Linked DNA regions of Homo sapiens. Changing the gene in region 3 together with the main gene of any one other region gives a genetic interaction. Each region holds a gene or a part of one and is shown on either strand. Other genes may lie near its edges. The genes, in order: CLEC16A, TMED10, EIPR1 and ARMH3.

Region 1 (4,163 bases), on a different chromosome or scaffold from region 3:
GTGATCCTGTTTCCAGGGATTTCAGGGTTTCACGCTGGTGGACGTTGGTGTTTCCGAGTCATGTCCACCCCCGCACTTCACCTCTGTCCTCGGTGGGGAGCCTTCCTGCTTCCCTCGGCCCAGCCTGGCAACAATGACGCTGCTCGCTACGCTTGTCCTGCGAGGTAGGGCTTGGCTGTCCAAATCCACAGATGCAGAGCCTGAGGCTTGGATGGGCAGCCACCTGCCCAACAGGGAAAAGATGCAGAATGTGGACCACGCTCCCTGTACCCGGCAGGGGTAGGGCGGGGACATTTCCTGATGGTGCCAACTGCCCCTTAGCAGTTATTCCCGGGTTGTATGAGCCCCGACAACCTCTTAGGAACCTGGGGATGGGAGGGAACCTGGTGCGGGGAGGAGGGAGAGGGAGGGGCTCCAGCCACCACACCCCTGCCAAGCAGCTGCGCCGGGATGAGGGGTCATTGGCTGGGAACCTTCCCCTGTGCCAGGCCACGGCCTCCTGCCACAGCCCCCAGGAGCAGCACGCTACATTCTTGGTAACTTTTTTTCTCTTTTATTGCCAAGTTTAAATTTACAAGGAAGTTCCAGTTTTCATTTCCACCCTCGTGTTCAGTACCCACGAAGCATGAGTCATGCTGGCGAAAGCAGGTACTTCCCTAGAGCGGTCCCGAGGCTCAGAGGCATCGAGGTTTTCTAACCCTCGGTTCTCACTGGGACAAAAATTATTTACATATTTTTAGCTCAAGGAAACATAAGGAACTCGTACAGTGTAGGCCCAATGTCAAGATGACTACATTAAATGCTTCAGATTTATTTATTGCATCTAGACAAGAAGATCAAAATCAGTTCACCCCACGCCTTTTTAAAAAACGGTGCATCTCAGAGACCTTAGAGGAATCTAGCGCGTCTGGCAGGGCTGCGCTTCTTCACCTGCCCCTTAGGTTGCTTGTGAACGCAAGTGTCTGGGTTGTGGGAGGCTGCCAAGGCTCCGGGAGAGGGACTGGGCTGGGACAGCGGCAGAGGAGGGGCTGCTCACGGAGGCCCCTCCTCCCAATCCCACGCGATGGTGAAGGCTGGCCCTTCCTGCCTGGGGGAGCGCCTCAGCTGGCCCCATCTGACCTGCTGGGACAGGTACCTTGCACGTCCAGAAAGGGACGAGCACACCTCCACAACAATATTCAAAGCCAAGGTTTGGGAGTTCCTGCGGCCAGCCCTGCTCCCTGACTTGGCAAACCCAGCCGGAGGTGCACAGGGGAAGGGTGGACCAGGGCCTGGGCCATAACTCTAAGTGCTCTCTGCAGGGACTTGGGGGGCGGGCCGGATGGGTCTGTGGGGGCTGACCTCAGACCTCTGAGGCTATGACCTGAGTGTCAGAAGCCACAGCCCCCACTGTGGGCCTTCCCACACTCCTGGCTCTTCCTCTGGATGCCAGGGGCCCAGCGTGTCCTGTCTGGACTGGCCTGTCTGGGAGCGCCCCAGCTATGAGGTTTGACGGGAGCTCCTGAAGACATAGCTGTGCCCACTGCCGCTGAGACCTGGGTGAGGTGGGGTCCTTTGAAGCCAAAATGGCTGGTGGCCTCCAATGGGCTGGCTCCCAGACCTCCTTACATAAGCAAAGCTTCTGGGAGCCCTGGTTATAGGAAATCCTCACCCCACACACCTGGAGGTGTCCCCCAGACGCAAGTTGCCAGCCCCAGCTGAAAGAGGCCCCTGAGAGTGACCCTGCAAGCCCACATGGGGACTGCCCTTTTCTTGGCCAGGGATGCAGGGTAGAAGCCCTGCCCTGAGCAGTGTCTTTTATCCTCCGCTGGTCCTCCCAGTCACCTTTAATCCTCTGCTGGTCCTCCCGGGCATGCTGTCCAGCCCTGACCAAGACCTCTCTCCTTCAGTGCTCAGTGGTTACAAGACCAGTTGGAGCCCAGAGACTTCTGACAGCAGGCTGGTGGCCCACCCGTGTGGCATGGAGTGAGCTGCAGGCTGTTCCTCCTGGTCACGCCTTGGGGTGGGGCAGCCACTTGCCTTCTCTAGTTTCTGCTGCCCCACAGACAGAGTCATTTCAAAACCAGAAGTGCATGTCTCAGGGGCTAGCCATCTCCAGCCAGGGCCAGCTTGATCCTCTCTACCCCTCTTGCTCTTAAAAAATTAAGCAACACACAGGCTGCCTGCTGGGTGTGGCGTGTCCCGTCTCCTGATGCTGTGGTCCTTCTCTCCATGATGGTCTTCCCCCCGCTCCACCCTGCCTTCCTTCTCTTCCAGGGATTCTGCAGATGGCCACGGTGGTCGTGGTTTGTCCTTCCTTTGGGTTTCTGCCCATGTGGCCCCCTTTCTGAGCTGTGCGTTTTCTCTATGGAAGCAAAGGTCCTTGTACCTGCAGCCATGAAGGCTGGGTGGGCACAGCTACCCAGAGGGCTTCTAAGGACTGAGGCCTGTCCCCATGGGCGCCACTCCCCCTCCTTGGCAGGACTGTGTTTCCTTCATGAGGTTGAAAACTGCCCTCGGCAGGCCTTGCCGGGACAGCTGGCTGGGCCGAGGAGACAGAGACCATGTTCTTCTAAAATGCAGGTGGCAAAAGATCTCAGCGCGGCTCCCGAGACTACCCTATGGCCAGGCTCCGGCGGATACCTAATGCCCCTGGTGGGCACATCTGCTGGCAGGTCTGGAGGAAAGTTGTGGAAGGTCTCACCAGTGACCAGAGAGGTGAGGGGCCGCTGGCCCTGGTGGACTTGGGGAGGGTGGATCACGGCCTGGGCTGTGAGTGCTGTGTCTGGCTCCCGAGCTGGCCGAGTAGAAAGGAACATCTTGGGGGCTGTGTCTGATGCATCTGGGTCCTTGCTTGTACACACCCAGTCCGAATGGGGAAGGGAACCATGGGGTTTCCATATTCAGATCAGCAGCAGTAGCAGAGGGAGAGTGACAGACTCAGAGCTCTGGGGACACCATGCCCTTGCAGCTGGAGGGGAACTGGCTCTGGGCCATCTCTCGGCACATGTGGGCACACACAGTCGAGGGCAGGTGACGTAGAGGGTGTCTTCCTTTGATTTCCATCATGGCCACAGGGTCGGGAGTCTTCACGGTCCCAACTGGTTCCTTCTTAGAGATGGTAACACTGAAGAAGGTGCTGGAAGCTGTCTCTGTTTGGTTTTGGTGAAGAGAAATGAGGAAGCGTCCTGAGTGGGGAGCTGGCTACATTCCTCCTTTTCCTGGAGAAATCTTTCCATGATGGGAGGCCTCTCGGCTGCTATAGCAGAAAACCATTCAGCCCTCTCAGCTCTGTGTGTACCTGAGAATACATGTATCTCCCTTGTTTTTGTTTAAAAAATAATCCAAACTTTCCAGGAAGGTACTTCATTATTCCACAGGCTTGCAGAGTTAGTGAGTAACAAAGAATCACTTAAATAAATGGAAAAAGCCACACTAAGAACTCTGAAACAAAATATCAGGAAAGGTCCAGTGAAAATGATCATGAAATCTTAACTGTTATTATTACACTTTTCACATGACATCAAACCTTAGTGTTGATGTTTTTGGACTTCTTTTAAATAGAAGTTTTAAAAATAAATGTTCACCTGCTGCCAAAAGCGGAAATAAATATCCAAAGGAGATGTTTATCTAAGTCTGCTTTTCTACAAATTTCTACGTACAGTGACCTGGTCCAATTCTTCTGTGCACACTGGGGCTGGTGACAGAGGAGCCATATGACAGAGGAAGAAAGAGGTGCCGGTGGGTCCTGCCACCCGGGGCTCAGAGACACGGAGCCCAGGCAGCTCCCTGAGTGGCCGGTGCAGTCATCTGCATTCGCCGCGGTGTCTCCGCTGGTCCCAGCCTGCACGTGAAGAGATGCAAAGTGAAAAAGGAATTCAAGGACAACGTGGGGCTTCTTCCCATTCAAGGGAGCGCAGGGATAGGTGGTTGAGATGGCTGCTGGGGGCCGCACAGAATGGTGGGTGCTCCCAGTGTGTCTTGCCAGTCAGCGGCACTGGGGTCCCTACCAGCGGGGCCACACACACAAAGGGAGGCCCCGGCACTGACTCAGTCCTCAGCGGTGCCCACAGGCTCAGCACATGCAGCCTCTTCGCCCACGGGCTCTGTGCAGGCGGCAGCCGGCGTGGACAGCGGGGGCATGCCGGTGAGGCTGCGGAGGCTGTGGGGGTCAACTGGGGGGA
Region 2 (7,203 bases), on a different chromosome or scaffold from region 3:
CAATGATATTACCTATTTGGCATTTGGGTTTAGGACCCTTGTGGTTCCATTAAGCTGGTTAGTAGCAAAAGAACAGAGCAGACACAGGAGAGCAACTGAGTGATAGTAAAGTGCTAGGGTGTGTGCACAAAGTCCTGCTGGTTTTTGTTTTGCTTTGTTTTGTTTTGTTTTGAGACCGAGTCTTGTTCTGTTGCCCAGGCTGGAGTGCAGTGGCACGGTGTCAGCTCACTGCAGCCACTGCCTCCCAGGTTCTAGTGATTCTCCTGCCTCAGCCTCCCGGGTAGCTGGGATTACAGGCACACGCCACCATGCCCAGCTAATTTTTGTATTTTTAGTAGAGACTGGATTTTAGCATGTTGCTGAGGCTGGTCTTGAACTCCTGACCTCAGGTGATCCACCCGCCTCGGCCTCCCAAAGAGTTAGGGTTACAGGCATGACCCACCAAGCCCGGCCTAAAGTCCTGCTGTTGAGGTGCCTTCAGCAGCCCTAAATTCAATGTAATTCCCATAAGGCCATGCTAAACTACAGTTCCTGTTATTTATAGAGTACTTACTAGAAGCAAGGTAACATGCTTGGCATTCTAGAAAAGATGAACCTGAAAATAGTTCCTACCCTGAGGATACTAACAGTCTAGTAAGTAGGTCAAGGCATAAACAAAAACAGTTCAGAAAATAAGTGAGTTCAGGGTACTGTCCAGGGTGGCTCCATGTAGAATGCAAAGTGGGAAGTGACCACACGTATAGCTCAGAAACAGATCATGAAGAGCACAACAAAGCATGTTGAGAAATTTAAACTATCAATAAGCAATAGTGAGCCACTGAAGGGCTTTAAAATATAAGAACAAATCAGACAGCAACACGAGATGAGAGCAAGGTCTCTTTCATTGCTGAAATTCCCTGAGTCCATGAACATCCTCTGAAGAGTTGGAAGCATGATCTCCCACCCCGGAAACACTATATCTAAGCTTCTAAAATCATGCCATCACTATTTTCCTGGGTAGAGAGTTTGATACCCAAACAGAATAATAAAATGATGGGTCACAGATTAATTGCCCTGAAAATAGTTTGTCTCTCCCAAATAAAGTAGAAATAAATTACATGTATTACCACACTACTGGGTTCCACTACTTTAACATAAGTTATGGTCTTATTATATCTGAAACCCTTTTAAAAAGTAAAAACGAGGCCAGGCGCGGTGGCTTACGGCTGTAATCCCAGCACTTTGGGAGGCCGAGGCGGGCAGATCACGAGGTCAAGAGATCAAGACCATCCTGGCCAACATGGTGAACCGTCATCTCTACTAAAATACAAAAATTAGCTGGGTGTGGTGGCTGGCGCCTGTAGTCCTAGCTACTCGGAAGGCTGAGGCAGGAGAATTGCTTGAAACCGGGAGGCAGAGGCTGCAGTGAGCCGAGATCGCGCCACAGCACTCCAGCCTGGACGACAGAGCAAGACTCCGTCTCAAAAAAAAAAAAAAAAAAAAAAAAAGTAAAAATGTTTCTATTTAGTATAACAAAAGCCCCATTGTGTTACAAAGAAAAAAAAAGACACTTTGCTTATTGTGAATGAATAAAATTACCTAAAATGCAACCAAATACTGACAGATATCAAATTATATTAATGTCTCAAAGACCAGGCCAGGCTACTCTTAGCTACAAAACAGAATCAAACTGGTATTATGGCAGTAGTTGTCACCATCCAAGAGCATAGTTGGTATTTACATAAAAGAGCCAAGTCCAGATTCTGGCATACCAAAGAAAAAGGACTAGAGACTGAGACCATTTTGTAACCAATAATCGACTTTAATCAACTACAGAAATTACAAATTTAAAACAAGGAAGGAATAAGGTTGCAGCGCTTTTCCCTCAACATACTTAACTACCAAACTAAGTAAGAATCTATTCCATCGCAAGGACAGAAAACCAAACACCGCATGTTCTCACTCATAGGTGGGAATTGAACAATGAGAACACTTGGACACAGGGTGGGGAACATCACACACCGGGGCCTGTCGTGGGGTGGGGGGAGGTGGGAGGGATAGCATTAGGAGACATACCTAATGTAAATGACGAGTTAATGGGTGCAGCACACCAACACGGCACATGTATACATATGTAACAAACCTGAAAGTTGTGCGCATGTACCCTAGAACTTAAAGTATAATAATAATTTTGAAAAAAAAAAAAGAATCTATTCCATCTGTGACACTTACTAGTTTATCCTACCTCTGAGTCTCAGTTTCCTCATTTGTAAAATGGGGCTAACAGTACCTACCTACTTCATAGGGTAGTGCATGAACCAAATGGTAATATATGCAAAGTAGCACAGTAACTGACACAGCAGATGCTCAATAAATAACATTTTATTAATCACGGTTAGCTCTGTCTCCTTTACTTTCCTGCAGGTATCGCGGTATCTTATGATGCCAATCCGTATAAATATTCAACACCCCAACATTTATTTGGAGAACCAAATTACGGTTCAATGTATCTGAGACCAAAACTGGTATAGGACGTTGACAACCGCCCCAGCTCAGGTGTCACCACATCCGCCAAAGCCTCGCAGCCCTTCTTGGGGTTCCCAGGCGTTGGTGACCCGCCCCGCCCCGCGACAGGCAACCAGCGGGGTGAGGGGGCGGGCTCCACCGCACGTCCTTTGCGCTCCCGGGAGGCCAGAACAACTCCCAGGCCTCCGCCGGCCCGACTCCCCCGAACCCGAGCCTCCCCTCGCCTAAGCCTGCCGTCTTCCCTCCCGGCCCCACGTCGCCCAATGCCGCACCTTGAGGTGGCTGCGCAGGCCGCCAGCGCCCCCAGACTGGTCGGAGATCTCGTACGCGCCAGTCACTAGCAGGTCCTTGTGAATCTCCTCACGGAGGCACTTGCGAGAGTTAATGGGCAGATGGAAGGAGATGGCAAGGACCAATCTGGGGCCGAGCAGGAACAAAAGCAGCAACGCTAACGGAAAAGGGCCGCGCCGGGCTGGTGGGCCAGACAAACCAGACATGGTGCTGGAGACTCGTTCACCACCGAAGGCCTCAACCGCGCCGGAACCGGGGGGACCCACGTGACTCACCTCTGACCTTCTGATGCCGTCCGCGCCATTTTGGAGACTGGCATGTAGAGAAAGACTCTATAGCGAATCTTTTGAAAAGGGAAGAAAGGATAGGTACCATGTCAAAACCGCAAGTTTAAGCAGTTAAAGAAGCTTTAATAGAATACTATTGCAACAGTTTTATTTTTGTTGAAGTTAGTGACTACTGAGTCGGCCATGGCAAGTATGGGCAGCCCTGGAAGTAATTCTCCTTTAATTTCCGAAAGATGTACCCACGAGTTTAAAGGCGAGTGACACCATAGCAACCAAGCCCCAATAGGAAACAGCCACAAGGCCCTTCGCTGGGCCCGCCCACCGGCCGCCTAGGCGCGAGGGCGGGGAATGAGGCTGTGTCTCCGGGGATGGGGCGGTTTGCAGGCACTCCCAAGCGCCTTTGACACCTTGATGACACCTGGGGCACTGAGACACTAGAGAGGAAAATTTCGAGGAAAGATTTCAACTTGGCTATTAGACAGTGTGGACCTTAGAGAAGAAGTTTTAGGGGTCACCTGATGAATGTGTGCCGGGCAGACATCCGGTTCATGTCCCATAGCAGGGTATTTGGGCTGGAGTAATTGTCTGGCTAACTGAATGTACATGGTATTATTATTATTATTATTATTATTATTATTATTATTATTTTAGCAAACATTGAATGTGTTCTAAGCTATATTCAAAATAAATTTGAATTTGGTATTTAAATTGAATAAAACAACATGTTTTGGTCCAGTCTCAGATGAACATAATTAAGGGGTTAGCAGATAAGCGTTGTCAGGGAAAGTGCGTATGTGTGTGTTTTAAGTTCACAAACACTTTAGGGATCAAATTAACTATTAACATTTGCAAATAGACAAGCAAATTGACACGGTAATAATTCATGCATTCATTCAATGGAGTACCTACTGTGTGCCAGACATTATGCTATGCATGTATGTCAACACGTTTATTGATTTAACAAACTATTACTGGGATACTAGCAAATATTCAGAGCTGAAGAATATATTAAAATAAACGGCCAGGCGCGGTGGCTCACACCTGTAATCCCAGCACTTTGGGAGGCTGAGGCGGGTGGATCACGAGGTCAGGAGTTCAAGACCAGCCTGGCCAAGATGGTGAAACCCCGTCTCTACTAAAAATACAAAAAAATTAGCTGGGCTTGGTGGCGGGCGCCTGTAATCCCAGCCACTCAGGAGGCTGAGGCAGAGAATTGCTTGAACCCGGGAGATGGAGGTTGCAGTGAGCTGAGATGGCGCCACTGCACTCCAGCCTGGGCGACGGAGTGAGACTTGTCTCAGAAAAGAAAGAAGGAAAGAAAGAAAATGGAATTGCTCCTTGGCCTTTTGGCTAACATCAAGTGTAGAAAATAAACGTGGAAGACACAATAGCCCATGTTGGGAATCATTACCTACTTTGATTAACGTTTATTGAGCATCTTCAGAAATATCCAGAAGATGGACTGTCTGCCCTTAGTAATGTACATGATTGGTGTTTTTTTTTTTTAAACTTAGTCCATTTAGTTATTTTCCTAGAAATGAAATCCCACAGACAAAACAAGAACAAACAAAGGAGCTGTAAAGCATTTAAAATTTTGACAAATGCCATACAATAATTATTTTATGAGGTGTCCACTTAGGAGCATTTAGTTGGATTGTTGTATCACTGATCTAAGATAAGATTGGTAGTCCACACAGTACATCCTGATAATTTGCATTGGCCTTTTCCCTGCCAATGCAGGGAATCAGTATAAGCAGTTATCTAATTCATTGTCTACTTGCATTCCTGAGGCTCTGCTGACCAATAGCAAGAGATCTCAACCCATGAAAAAACTGTGTATGTGTTTCCTTTAAATTTCCATCTTACATTTACATAATAGATAATGCAATTTAAAATATTTTCACATATCATAATGATCTCCTCTGACATTTTCAAAAACCCTGTGAAATAGTCTGGACAATCTGTTCATTTTACAGATGAGGAAACCGAGGTTCTGAGAGGCCAAATAATTATACTGTTAAAGAAAAAATACTTCATGACATTTGTTAAAGAACTGTAAAGCAGGCCAGAGGCGGTGGCTCACACCTGTACTCCTAGCACTTTGGGAGGCCAAGGCGGGCGGATAACTTGAGGTCAGGGGTTCGAAACCAGCCTGGCCAACATAATGAAATCTTATCTCTACTAAAAATACAAAAAATTAGCCGGGCATGGTGGTGGATACCTGTAATCCCAGCTACTTGGGAGGCTGAGACAGGAGAATTGCTTGAACCCAGGAGGTGGAGGTTGCAGTGAGCCAAGATCACACCATTGCCCTCCAGCCTGGACGACAGAGCGAGACTCCTTCTCAAAAAAAAAAAAAAAATTGTAAAGCAAATCTTTATTCAAGGGGGACTGCCAAGATAGGTAATACAAGGGCCTATGACAATGGGGTTTTGTAGTAGGAAGGAGAGATCGGGCTCAATTCCAAATACAAGGAAAAGTAGGGATTTACAGCCAAAAATCAGGGTCAGTGGATGGAAAATTACTAAAAGGAAATATTGGGAGTAAGGGGAGATTCTGGCTAAACTAACTTAGCAGGATTCTTCCTAAAATTGGACAATGCAGAGTCATGGAAGTCCAAAAGTCAGAGCCTATTGAGAAGACAGATCAGAACAGCGTGGGTAAAGTTTGGTCAAGGAGAGAATCTTTGTCAGTACCCCAAACCTCATAAGCTTAAAAGTGACAAAAGCAGTCTAGGGGCCTGAGCTATCCTCAGGAAGATGCTATTATTTCTTATTTTAAAGATGAAGAAACTCAGATGCACAGCAGTTACTTTTCTGTGTCACAGCTCTCAAGTCCTTTCTTTTCTTTTTTGAGATGGAGTCTGGCTCTGTTGCCCAGGCTAGAGCGCAGTGGTGCGATCTCAGCTCACCACAACCTGCCCCTCCTGGGTTCAAGTGATTCTCCTGCCTCAGCCTCCTGAGTAGCTGGGATTATAGGCGCGCACCACCATGCCCGGCTAATTTTTGTATTTTTAGAAGAGACAGGGTTTCACCATGTTGGTCAGGCTGGTCTTGAACATCCTGACCTTGCGATCTGCCCACCTCAGCCCCCAAAGTGCTGGGATTACAGGTGTGAGCCACTGCGCCCGGCTTCCAGTCCTTTCTTGTCCTGTAGTCTTACTTATCCCCATCCTCCAACACCTCCTGTCTTTCTTCCCTCCTTTATAATTTTCCCCTTAGCACTCATTACTATCAAATAAAGCATACATTTTACTTACTTATTGTGTTTATTAGTCTGTCTCCCTAACTAGAATGTCTGTTTTGTGAGGGCAGGGATTTTTATCTATTTTTTCACTGTTTTATCTTCTGAACCTAAAACAGTGCCTAGCACTTAGGTACAATAAATAATGGTACAATGAATTTAAGACTGGTACCTTAGAAAGCGCAACCACAAATTTCTCCCATTATTCTTTAGCTGTTTTCACATAAATTTGTTTAATCCATAATGTATCTAAAGCATAGGTACAGTTTCAGTGTCACCAACATGTCTATCTTTTCTTAAAAAAAATGGAAAATACACTCTTGTTTCTATATAAGGACACAGAAAAACAAACAAACAAAAACAATTCTCCTCTGTATGCTGTGGAATGGAACCAAGACTTTTAAGCCTGCACCTGTGTTAAAGAAGTTACCGGCCGGGCATCGTGGCTCAAGCCTATAATCCCAGCACTTTGGGAGGCTGAGGCAGGCGGATCATGAGGTCAGGAGGAGATGGAGACCATCCTGGCCAACATGGTGAAACCCCGTCTCTACTAAAATACAAAAAATTAGCCCAGCGTGGTGACACGTGCCTGTAGTCCTAGCTACTTGGGAGGCTGAGGCAGGGGAATTGCTTGAACCTGGGAGGTGGAGGTTGCAGTGAGCTGAGATTGCGCCATGGCACTCCAGCCTGGCGAAAGAGCGAGACTCATCTCAAGAAAAAAAAAAAAAAGAAGTTACCATTGGGCCAGACGCGGTGGCTCACGCCTATAATCCCAACATTTTGGGTGGCTGAGGCAGGCAGATCACTTGAGGTCAGGAGTTCGAGACCAGCCTGGCCAACATGGTGAAATCCCATCTCAGCTAGAAATACAAAAATT
Region 3 (7,040 bases):
ACGTGTACACACATTAACACATACACAAATGTGCACACATACGTGTGCACAGAGACACAAGCACAAATGTGTGCACATGTGCATCACACACATGCGCACAAATGTCTATTTGCTGGGGATGTGGCAATCATTTGAAATGTGGAACTCCTAACAGTGCTGTGTGGTTTGCACAGAGATCCTGCATTCGGGCGGGGAGTGACAGCAGTGGCAATCACTCCTGGGGACTTTGGGACTCTTCATCTGCCTCCCCTTACTGTGCAAGACTGGCTGTGATTTTAATACTCAGAGCATCTCCGTAAGAAGAAATATCCACCGACGTGGTAGAAGCACAGCAAGTATAAAAATAATTCCACCACAAACTGATACACAGAGAGCATCCGGAGCCACAGACTGCCTGACCCTCAGCACTGCTCTCCTCCATACCTGACGAGGGAAACCTGAGTCGGTCCTCAGTCCCCGTTCCAAACTCCACCTCGTAAGCGAATCCCTCTTCAATTCCTCTAATAACAATTAATGGCTGCTCCTTCCGGGGCCACAGCGTACAGTTCGTAATGATTTCGGGGTACGCCACGGCTGGCCCAGCCACAGTTAGTTGTGTACACCCTGGGTCTCCCCGTGGAGATCATGACTCTCGGAGGCCGGGCCCTCTAACTTGTCACCTTGGTGTCCCTGGAGCCTGGCAGGGTTTCTGTAGCAGGTATTTAATAAGTATTTGTTGTATTAAATTTATTTAATTGGTAGAACTGACGAGACAGAAGTCACTGTACAAACGATTTGTCTCTTGCAGACACACACGCACATGTGTATGTGTTAATGCATTAAGTAAAACAATCACTATCGTTATTGTAAACACTCATAACAACAGTATGCCCCCGCAATCTCCTTTAGAAAATACGGCTTCTTAATTTTTACCAAGGCCTCAGGGCCTTCAGAGAGCAGCTGTGACTGCCGTGGAGAGGTCCCTGGGAATGACCAGTGGGTGCACACAGCCAGGCCTCCAAGCTCATGAAGCAGCGACTGGCCAGGGAGCCACGTGAATGACACACCACATGCCGGACACGGGCGGGCTTGGGCACGCAGCCCCACAGGCACACCACGCATTCATGCTTTGTCCACGGGAGGAAGGGATTGTAAGCCTCAACCTGAAGTGGTAAATAATTGCCATGTGAGTGTGAATAAGTGCATGCTGACCAAGCTGAAAAGCCACACAGCGCTCGAGGGCAGTGCAGTGCCTGACCCTTTACCCTCTGGCAGGTCCCCACGGGCAACACTCCTCTTAGATGAAGAGGAGAAAGTGGGGATGCAGGCGCGCTGGCTACATTTCTGTCAATGCGGCTAATCTAGAAAACACAGGGACTAAAATTAAAAATCAAATTCTCGCAGCTTTTTAAAAGAAAGGAGCGTTTCCGAGGTGTGGACGGTGGCTCCTGCAAAGGAATCTGCACAAGCTCCTGCACCTGGCCAACCTGCAGGCTCGTTCTGGGCGCATGAAATATGCAAAATCCTACCAGGCCATGTTGCCATGGGCTGTGTTGTCAAGGTGACAGAGCAGCTCCAGGGTCTGTGCAGTGCTGGATGAATCATCAGGGGACTCGTGGCTGCCTGATTCCAATTCCTTCGGCATCCTCCACACGGCTGCACATGTCAGGACTTTGCTGTCTGAAGCTGAGCAACAGAGCATAATGGATAATGTCAACAGAGCACGGTGTGCCCCGCATTCTGCAGACAGCACACGCACATTTACACAAATCCATAAGCAGCGCGCATCTGCTCTTTAAAATATGTACGATTGCAGGCAGCAAAGACGGAGCAGGGAGAAGCACAGCCTGAGTCGGCAGGCAGAACCCGGCACGGTTCGTAATCAGCATCCTGTTCCCCACTTTCTCTTTGTTTTAAAAACCATCATGCTGTTTCAAAAGAAAATTTAATTTCCTCAAAATCGATTTCCTTCCGTTCTTCTTCAATAGTTCTTCAAAAAAGGGAGCAAAATGGGGGACTAAAGATATAATCACCACGCACGCAGCTGGTGTCTAAGGTTGGCATTAAACGGGTTTTCTCTCCATAGCTGTATGAGATCACCTTAAATGACTATTAGGCACACTGAGCGATATTCCATTCGGAAATCCTGTCACGCATGTTATTCTGCCTCAGTTTACCTAAAGTGATGAGTATCTGGGACCGGAAGGTAATGCCATTCAGAGGCATCGCATGCTGAGGCCTGGAGCCCTGGTGGGCAGCAGGTGGCAGCCCAGCCTGGTCATGTCACCATCAATACAGCCTCTTCTCCTAGAAATGAGAGTGCCATCCTTACACGATCCTGCTGGTGGCTGCTCGGTCTCCCTGAGTCTTGATACTCTATTTTCAAGATGCTCCAGGAATCTAGAGTACCTAGAAAAGCCACTTTGTGGATAGAGACTCAACCTGCATTAGAAAGACTGGGGTCACTTGTTTCCAAGGAAGGTCTCTGATGCTCTAGAAAATTTCTCAATATGATAAATTTTTTAAAAATTAGATTTAACATTGAATTCTTGAACATAAATCCTTTCAGAATTTGCTTTCCATTTAGTTTTCAATTGAATATGTGCTAAACACCTCTCCCTTTTAAAGATGGCCTTTAATGAATAATCATAAACTAGCAAACAGGATTCAACATTAAATCATCAATTGATAACAAGTGAAGAACATAAAAATATTATATATTGCGTTAGAACATAAAAAAACATTTCATGGGTAGTACAAGAAGGAAAACAGCATGGCATTACAAAATAACAACGACCTTAGGTTACAATCGAAAATGTATCACTTACTGGTGATGATGCTCTTGCGATCTCAATATCAACTAATCGACCAAGCAATATAGCAACGAACTCAATGACAAAATATCTAACTTTGTGAATATTATTAATACCATTGTTAACCATGATTGAATGATAAGAAGTTAAAAGATTAAGACTTCAACCAGGATTTTCTGATTCCAAATTCAGTGACCATTTTATATACCATATTGGGTCTAAAAGAACATGCAATTATGGCTTAAAGAAAAAAAACTCCATCATATATTCATATAATGTTCACACTTCCAACTTTACAAAAATGGAGTGTACAGACAGTTCTGTCTACAAGGGAATTTTATTTATTTATTTATTTATTTATTTGCTGAAATTTTCAGTTACACGATCTTTCTGCAGAGCCCACGAGATTGGCAATGGCACTCCTGGAAACACAAAAATAACCAAAGGGAAAGTTGGCAATTTGGAGTAGGAAAGAAAAAAATGAATGCCTAACCCACTAGCACACACTAACCCAACAGAGGTGTAGATTATCTTAATCTTTCTAAATGGTAGAAAAATACATGTCTAATCTTACAAGTTATAGAACTAATAATGGGAGCACTAAATTGTGGCTGCACTTCAAAATGAATGAAATACACAAGATGACAAAGGCAGGGAATAGTAAAAACAGCTATTCTGTGGAAGAAATGACTAATGGCAGACACTCCCCCCCACATCCCCAACAAGTTCCTTCTTTGGAGAATTCTGTTCAGGTGTAAAGAAAGTGACTTTCCTGTAAACGCCAGCTCACCAAACTCCTTAACTATATCCACGTTGCCCTCAATAAAGCAAAAGTGGTACAGGTGAAGTAAGATTTTCCACTCTCAGGTAAGCTACCTCCCTTCAAAGTCTACACCAGATACAATGTTTAAGTGACCAGCTGGACAATGAAGTTTCCACGTATCCGGTTCATGTAGCGCTATTCACCTCTCTCCCCACAGTCCATCAACTTCACAGAGTAGAGAAGGCAATGGAGGAACCTCCAAGAAAATATAGATAAGAGAATCTACACTCACTTCAACTTTTACTCCATTCTGAAACCCTTCTAATGTTGTAACAAAGAGGGGTTTTTCTTTCTATTTTCTTTTAAAAACATAAACCCACAAGGATAGAAGAGCAATGAAGTTTTGGAAGCTGGAAAGAAACAGACCCTTAGAAAGATGGTCACTTGTTTTACTACAAAAATAACACTCAAGAGTGGAGAAAGGATGGTCTTTTCAATAAATGATGCTGGATCAATTGTATATCCATATGAAAGAAAATAAACTTGTATCCTACCTCATAACATACTCAAAAACCAATTCCAGCTAGACTGATGATAAAGACGTAAAGATAAAATAATACAAATCTTTTCAAGAATACATAGTAGAATATCTTCTCAGCCTTGGGACAAGCAAAGATTCCTTAAATGGCAGGAAAAAAAGCTGGATCATACAGAAAAAGACGAATAACATAGAATCTATTAAAATTAAGAACTTCTATTCACCAAAAGACCCTATTAATTGGACTTCATTAAAATTTAAAACTTCTTTAAAATCAAAATGAAAAACTCTGCTTTCAGAAAGACACTATTAAAGAAATGAAGCAGTGGCCGGGCATGGTGGCTCACGCCTGTAATCCCAGCACTTTGGGAGGCCAAGGCAGGCGGATCATGAGGTCAGGAGTTTGAGAGCAGCCTGGCCAACATGGTGAAACCCCGTCTCTACTAAACATATAAAAATTAGCTGGGCATGGTGGTGGGCGCCTATAATCCCAGCTACTTGGGAGGCTGAGGCAAGAGAATTGCTTGAATCTGGGGGGTGGAGGTTGCAGTGAGCTAAGATTGTGCCACTGCACTACAACCTGGGCAACACAGCGAGACTCCATCTCAAAAAATGAAGGAAGGAAGGGAGGGAGGGAGGGAGGGAGGGAGGGAGGGAAGGAGGGAAGGAAAGAAAGGAAAGAAAGAAAACAAAAGAAAAGAAAAGACAGACTGGGGGAGATATTTATAATACATATATCTGACAAAAGGCCTGTATCCAGAATAAATATAAAGACCTCCCACAGCTTAATAATGAAACAACCCAATTTTTTTAAATGTACCTTACGCCAAATCAGACACTTCACAAAAGAAAACATATGAATGGTCAACAAGCACCAGAAAAGATGCTCAACATTATTAATAATTGGAAGGAGGCAAAGTGAAACCATGTGAGACTCACCACACATCTTACTAGAGTGGTGAAATTTTCATTTAAAAAAGACCAACAATAGCAAGTATTGGCAAAGATGTACAGTAACTGGATCTCTCACGGATTGTGAAAAAAGAGTGTAAAACAGTACACACATTTTGGAAAACACTTTTGCAGTTGAACATTCACTTACCAGATGACCCAATAATTCCACTCTTAGAAGAAGCTGTCACAAAGCTTGGCTTGTTGATAATAAGCTTTGTCCAGCTTTCTGACTTGGGCAGTTAAACCCAGCCCCAAGTAAATGTGGTCGGGTGACGGTATGTAACTGCCAGAAGTCAGGGGGTGGCAATTATCATAATGACCAACGAGACCAGAGTGCCGGCCAAGGAAGCTCAACTGGCAGAGGGCTGTGGAGACAGTTAATAGAGTTGGTATTCCTAGGGGTGAAACAGACAAGGCATTCAAGGAGAGTACTGCCTGCCTGACACATGCACACATGAGTGCAAACGTACATAACGTACATACATATTAAAAAGAAAACAAGAATGAATGAGCAGAAGGCTGAGGGAAGTCACCCCACTCACAGTCACAATCCCTTACCCAGATCCAGATTTGAGGCAGCTTCAGAGCTGGAACCCACTGACGGTAAAGATGGTCAGATTCCCCACGGGTTAGGAACCTGCAACCCTAGGGCAGGTGTACACTGCAATGATTACCCTAGTCTGTACCCAAAGGGACCCACGGCCATTTTCCTGAATGCCATTCCCTGGGCAAAGGGTAATCCCCACACATTTCCAGGTCTGCTGAACACAAAGACACGCACAGGGGTCCAGCAACCCAGTGTCCCACTGTCCTCCGGCCCGAGTGGGGCATGGGGATGCCAGGTGATAAGTAAAGTCCTAGGCAGGGCCTGGCTTACCGCAGATCCTCTGAGTCTGTGGGCGCACCTGGTGGGCAACTCCAAGGTCTGTTAAGGTCAAATGGGATTGACATCCTGGGCAGTTTGTGAAATACCCATACCGGGCCTGTGACCTGTGGAGTTAATGGGAAGGTCACATAGAAGCCTCTGAAACTGCCTCCCCGTCCCAACCCATCAAAGAGTGGTAGAGACCTGCGCTTACTTTAAGAATCAAGGATATGAAGTGGGTGTGGCTTTGCTGAATTCACCATTGGCTTCTGCAGAAAGCTAATGGGCCCTGGAGAATGCCTGTGGATGACTCTAAGCTCAACAAAGCAGGAGCCCACTCAGATCCACAGTGCCAGCTGTGGAGTCTTGTTAGAGCAGATTCCCAGGCCCTCAGGCACATGATGTGTGTACACAGACCGTCAAATGCACGCTGTCCTATCCCAATGAAGAAAGAAGATGAGAAACCATCCGCATTCACAAGCAAAGGAAAACAGTATACACTCTTGCCACAGAGCTGTGCTGGTCTCCCATTTTCTATCATAATATAGTCCAAACAGACCTGGGCAGCCCACAGAACATCACATGGACCCACTGCATTCATGACATTACAGTGACAACGTAGGAGGAGCGTGCAGAAGACCTTGGCAAGACGGCAGGAAACACAAGCTATGGCAATTCCAGGACCTGCTACTTCTGCTGAGGACACCAGGACTTCCCCTCCAGAGCAAAAGCAGAAAAGACGCTGTAATGCCTGCCAGCCCTCTTCATTCTAGAGGTGACACATTATACACCTAGGAAGGCTGGACCAGCCCAGATGCTGGGGTAGCACGTAAGGCTGCCAGCTTAGGCCAAGAGGGCACTACAGCAAGATCAGGCTGGGGAGAGGCAGCCCTGCTTCTGGGGACGCCTAGTAGACCTGCTGGTGTGGAAGTTGTCAGTGGTAGAAAGCATGCAGTGTGGACTTTGTGGAGAGCCCGGTTGGAGTCACCACGTGGTCCCGGGGTTCTGGAGCAAGCCATGCCATCTGCAGCACAGAACCATGTCTTTTGATAAACAGCTCTGACCATGCCTCTGGGTCCTGATAATGGAGCTCCTGGCCATGGGGCACCAAGTGCCACGTGTCACTCA
Region 4 (5,115 bases), on a different chromosome or scaffold from region 3:
GGTATAGAGGCTGGGCATAGAAAGTGCTTGGGCAGCTCCTGTTAAGGTTGATTTCCAGGAGAGAATGGGCACTCTCGTTTGGAGTTCTGGGATAGGTATATGTGAATAAACTGGTCAAGAGAAGGGCCTTTACAATGGAGGGCAAGGAGCCCTCTGCTTAGTGCCCCATGCCCTAGACCTGTCCTCATTCACTTGGAGGAAAGGCTGGCAGGAATCCGTAAGTGGCCAAATGGGTTGGCTTGCCTCCTCAATACCACTAAGTTTGGAGATAAGGGAACTAACTCTCTTCTCCCTCCTTCTACCCAGAGGACAAGAGAGGTTACAGCTCTCCGAACCCAACTGACCTCTACTAGGGCCAGGAGACTCAGAGGAAGGAGGAGAGTTCACAAGGGCAGGTAGGGGTCCCCTAGCCAGATGGCAGCAGCACCTAGGAGATTACCTTACCTCTATCTTTGAGGAATGAGTCTGGGCAACAGAGATTAAGGAAAAAAAAAGCAACACTAAAGACAGTCCCACACAAATCAATTTTTAATAATTTCAACTTGCCACCAGCTCCAAATCCAGCTGCCTTGGGGATTTATCACCAGGGAAAACACTAAATGCCCCAGGCTGAGCTATCCATCCAGTGATCAGATGACCCAGCCTGTGATCTCTTAAGAACCTACATCTACACATGGCAGCCTGTTAGTGGCTTCTCTGGAACTAGTGCATAGCTGCTCAATGTTAGAGCCAGAACTCTGGTTCCCAGGGAGGGCGAGTATCCCAAAGAGATTTGAGGTTAAATGGATGGCAGTCCAGGTGGTCCCAGACATGCTCTCACTGCTGAATTCCTGCACTTACTCCTAGAATATACCAGTGCTGTTTGCTCCCGCCATCCTGAGGGCTTTAGAAAGTGCTTTAAAAAGGGAGGATCTCGAAGCAGCAGCTATTTCAGAGGCAGCTGTTGGGAAAGCCTATAGTGGTTCCATGGAGGCTATCCAAGGGAGGAACCACAAGCCAACTCCCCATAAGTCAGGAGATTTGCCTGTGGCCCCACCCAGAATCTGAGCGGACAGAATGGAGGCCTTATGCATGATGCTCACCTGGCCTGTTTCAGATGGAGGGCACCCTACCCCCAGAAAGTTCTCTCCCTCCCAGGCACTAGACCATGACAGGAATAGATTCCTCCCCAGAGGAAATTCTCAGGCAGGTTGGATGTAAACAACAGCAGGGTAAGGGGGTGGAACACGTGGAGGGGAGCTCAGCAGAGGCAGGAGAGGCTGCCAGAGGAGGGGGGGCTAAGGGAGGTGGGGGAGCTGCTGGAAAGGGAACCAGCAAAGTAGGCACCTTGAGGGCTCCAGAAAGCCTGTCAATGTTTATTTCATACACACCCTAAAGACAGTAAAGCAGATTAGAAATTAAAAGTTAAGGTGGTGACCCTATTGTGCTGATGAGTCAAATGGGCCAGAAGAAGGGGAAAGCTAACGGTACTCCTGGTGCCAAAACTAAAATTCAAAAGGCGGTGACTGGACAGCAGAGCACTGGGCAGATTCTCATCTCCAGTTTTCCCAGAGAAGTCAATTCTGAATTCAGAAAATAGGAAAACTGGCTGGGTGTGGTGGCTCACGCCTGTAATCCCAGCACTTTGGGAGGCCAAGGTGGGTGGATCATGAACTCAGGATATTGAGACCATCCTGGGTAACATGGTGAAACCCCATCTCTACTAAAAATACAAAAAATTAGCCGGGCGTGGCACACGCTCCTGTAGTCCCAGCTACTCGGGAGGCTGAGGCAGGAGAATCGCTTGAACCCAGGAAGCGGAGGCTGCAGTAAAGCCGAGATCACGCCACTGCATTCCAGCCTGGGCGACAGAGTGAGACTCCGTCTCAGAAAAAAAAGGAAAAAGGTACCCTATTCCTATCTTACCCTAAATCTGAGCCAAAGGTCCCGATGACTGGACAAAGTGCCAGTGCAGGCAGGGGACACAGATTTCAAGCCAAGCACAGCCCCAGGCCCAAAGGAAGCAGGATGTAGCTCCAGCTATATCTGAGAGTTGATCTGTTTTCAGAAGCCGAGCAGAGCCACTGACTTTCAGGGTGCTGGCATTACCCTGAGGCTTGCCTCACCAGCTCCCGAAAATTAGTCAGTAGCTACAGCTTGTAACCTCAAGATTGGAAATGTGAGGGGCTGTTTAGGGAGCCCACTCTGGAAGTCCCCACATTCCTGGAGGCCTCTCCCCACTGTGCCCACCCATTCCTCCCCAAATAAGATTATCCCTGGCTTGACCCTCCTGCCCCTGCTGCCCAAGCTCCATTGAAGTGCGGTCTTCACCAAGAGAACTTGGTATCTGTGTTTCTCTCCAACCTCGGGGGCAGCCCCCTCTCCCCTCGCTCCCCCTCCAGCCCATGATCCTCATGGGTAAGGGCAGTCAGAGGCTGCTCAGGTAGGCGTGGCCTCAGGAGATAGTGGAGAACTCCTTGAGCAGGACTTCTTGGCTGAGTGTGTGGAAGGCCAGGTTTCTCCGGACGTTGGTGCTAATGGATCGAACCTGGGAAAGGGTAGTTGGGGAAGGTGGGAGGGCGCAGCCAGAGAGAAAACAGGAGAGAGTCAGTTCTAAACGGCAGAGGACAGTGCCTGCTACACGGGGCACTAGAAGTCTCTCTCTTAGGAAATGAACCCTTAACAGCTATTATCCCTGCAGGCAAATGAGCAAACAGTTCCTTGACAGCAGGGAAGGAGAGAAGAGGGGTGGACAGGAACAAACTCTGGAGGATGTAAGAAGAGCATCTGGGCTCCTGGGGAGGTAGAAGCAGGCACAGACAAGAAAGGAGGGCTGAGGCTGACATCTGTCTCTGCTTTGGCTATGCAGAAGGGGGACTGGGCTGCTCAGTGATCTGATGGAGGAGGAGAAACTGAGGCCAGAAGACTCATGCTCTAGCACCACCTCTCTTTAGATGTGTTTCTAGTCTCTTCACTCTCCCTTTGGATTTATTTACATTTTGGGGTTAGAAGGAGCATTTAGAGATGCAGTCCTTTTCTGGCACAGATGGCAAGAGTAGGATCCAAGGAGGCCAATTTCAATGGCCAGGGCCAGGTGACATTGCTAGTGAGTCCCAGCTTGGGAGCAGGGCCGAGGGTTCTTAACTCCTAGTCTAGCACTCCTTCTAAAGATGCCTGCCCACTCGAGAGGAAAGTCTGGGGCGTATCCTTGCTGTGTGCCCACTGCTCACCTCACATACTCTCTACCCACAGAACCCTAACCCAGTGTTGCCTGGGTCAGCAGGGTAAAAGCCTGTAGAGAAAGGGTCAGAGGGCCCAAGTCCCTACTCTGAGAGGGTTCCAAGAGGAATCTGGCAGACTCTTCAAGGAGATTTCCCCACAGGAAATAGCTGTGTAGATTGCCTGAGAAACAAAAAGGGGAAGGAGGAGGAGAGTGTGTCTGCCCTGGGCCCCAAAGTCTCAGGAGCTTTCCTTCAATTTCTGCTATGCTATAGGAAACTTAATGAAGTCATCAGGAAGGAAGCAGAGGAAAGGGCAGCATGGCAAACAGCAGGAAACTTGAGCTCATTAGCTCCAAACTGGACCAGACCCTCTTTGCTCCCCTGTGCCAGGGGAACAAATATGAGCAGAACTGAGTAAGGCCGTGGTGAGTGTCTCAGAGCCTCGAGACACCGCTCCCGTAACCCTCTCCAGCTCCTCACAGATTGCTCTCTGTTAACCATTTGCTCCCAGAACTTCCTCCACATCAACTTAAAGACTTGCCAACCATCCCATAAAAATGTTCCACTCTGCTATCACTTTACACTAATGGTTTCTGTGTTCCAAACTAACTCACCCCAGAGCATGTCTTCCTGACCCTGTGGAAGTCCAAAATCCTGAGGAATGTCATGTCAGGATCAGAGTTGGGCTGTGTTTAGCACAAGACAAACGATCTAATACGCAGTGCCTTCACCACAATTGGCATGGGGTAAGTAAAAGCTGAGCTGACGCAAGTTCAGCCCCAGCAGAGGGAGGTCTAAGGACAGGGGAAGTGGGTACAGAGGCCTGCAGGTCCTGGTCTCAGTCCCCAGCCAGGATGTTTGTGTAAACCAAGCTGGTAGGGTTACAGGACTGCAGGGGGGCTGAGCTTTTCTTGAGAACAGCTCAGAGTACAGGGCAGGAAAGGGACCATCAATAGGGCTAGCTCTGTGGAGACACTGACTGGGAACTTAAGTAGGAGGCAGAGCAAATGCTCATGGCTCCAAGTGCCCAAGGGTGGGGGCTGCAGGAAGCTAAGTGATTGGAAAGCAGGGAATGGAGACTGGAGAACTAGATTGGGAGGGGACTCAGACCAGCGGCCAGTTAGGAGTTTAGGAAGACGTGATTCCATAAGAAGGGGAAGAATTAATTACTTTTATTAGTTGCCCTGAGGACAGGTTAAGGAATAATGAGCCAGATCTGCTGCTGGGAACACACGTCAAACCCCAGGCCCAGCTGGAGCTGTGCAAGGGCTGTCTCCATGGCTGCAAAGGAGAAGTAGGCAATACTACCTCGAATAGCATCTTCTCTTACTGCCTGGTACAATGGGGGAGAGAAGTTGCATACCCCATCCCAGCAGACCCCTCAAGTCTTGTTTTATCTGCAGATAAACTGCAGATAAACTGCAGAACCCAGTGGCTGGGGGCGGGCCCCTAAGACACAGGCAGAGGCGGTGGGGCACTCACCAGCTCTTTGAAGAAGGCAGCTTCCTTGTGCTGCTCTGAGTAGCGCTCATACTGGTCCAGGCCATCCTGCAGCTTCAGCGTGAGCGTGTCATAGTTGGCTCTCACCACCTCCAGCACCTGGAGGACATCAAGGGCCAGGCAGGGCTTAGGCCATGCAAATCCCACAACCCTGAGCCCCATTCTGCTGATCTACTGGGTTGGGTTTGGTCTGTGACAACACCCCCAAGAAACCTTGCTTATTACTTATCTTCCAGAAAACAGCCTGGCTACAGGGAGCGATGCCTCAGGTTTCTGGGACCACTTTCTCTCTCTCTCTTTTTTTTTTTTTTTTTTTTTTTTTGAGACTGAGTCTTGCTCTGTCGCTCAGGCTGGAGTACAGTGACGTGATCTCAGTTCACTGCAACCTCTGCCTCCCAGGTTCAAGCGATTCTCC

The links.
Region 1: changes in EIPR1 (region 3) and CLEC16A are lethal when combined (synthetic lethality), as found in Homo sapiens cells (one study listed by BioGRID).
Region 2: changes in EIPR1 (region 3) and TMED10 are lethal when combined (synthetic lethality), as found in Homo sapiens cells (one study listed by BioGRID).
Region 4: changes in EIPR1 (region 3) and ARMH3 are lethal when combined (synthetic lethality), as found in Homo sapiens cells (one study listed by BioGRID).

What each region holds. Positions count from the first base shown.
Region 1 is NC_000016.10:11,178,557-11,182,719, reverse strand, and holds the end of CLEC16A (protein CLEC16A), read right to left. Parts: coding exon 4,030-4,163; 3' UTR 534-4,029; downstream 1-533. UniProt on the Homo sapiens protein: Regulator of mitophagy through the upstream regulation of the RNF41/NRDP1-PRKN pathway. Mitophagy is a selective form of autophagy necessary for mitochondrial quality control.
Region 2 is NC_000014.9:75,173,578-75,180,780, forward strand, and holds the start of TMED10 (transmembrane emp24 domain-containing protein 10 precursor), read right to left. Parts: upstream 3,036-7,203; 5' UTR 3,003-3,035; coding exon 2,778-3,002; intron 1-2,777. UniProt on the Homo sapiens protein: Cargo receptor involved in protein vesicular trafficking and quality control in the endoplasmic reticulum (ER) and Golgi.
Region 3 is NC_000002.12:3,255,791-3,262,830, forward strand, and holds part of EIPR1 (EARP and GARP complex-interacting protein 1), read right to left. Parts: intron 1,666-7,040; coding exon 1,509-1,665; intron 1-1,508. UniProt on the Homo sapiens protein: Acts as a component of endosomal retrieval machinery that is involved in protein transport from early endosomes to either recycling endosomes or the trans-Golgi network.
Region 4 is NC_000010.11:101,845,094-101,850,208, forward strand, and holds the end of ARMH3 (armadillo-like helical domain-containing protein 3), read right to left. Parts: intron 4,800-5,115; coding exon 4,683-4,799; intron 2,528-4,682; coding exon 2,435-2,527; 3' UTR 506-2,434; downstream 1-505. UniProt on the Homo sapiens protein: Involved in GBF1 recruitment, Golgi maintenance and protein secretion.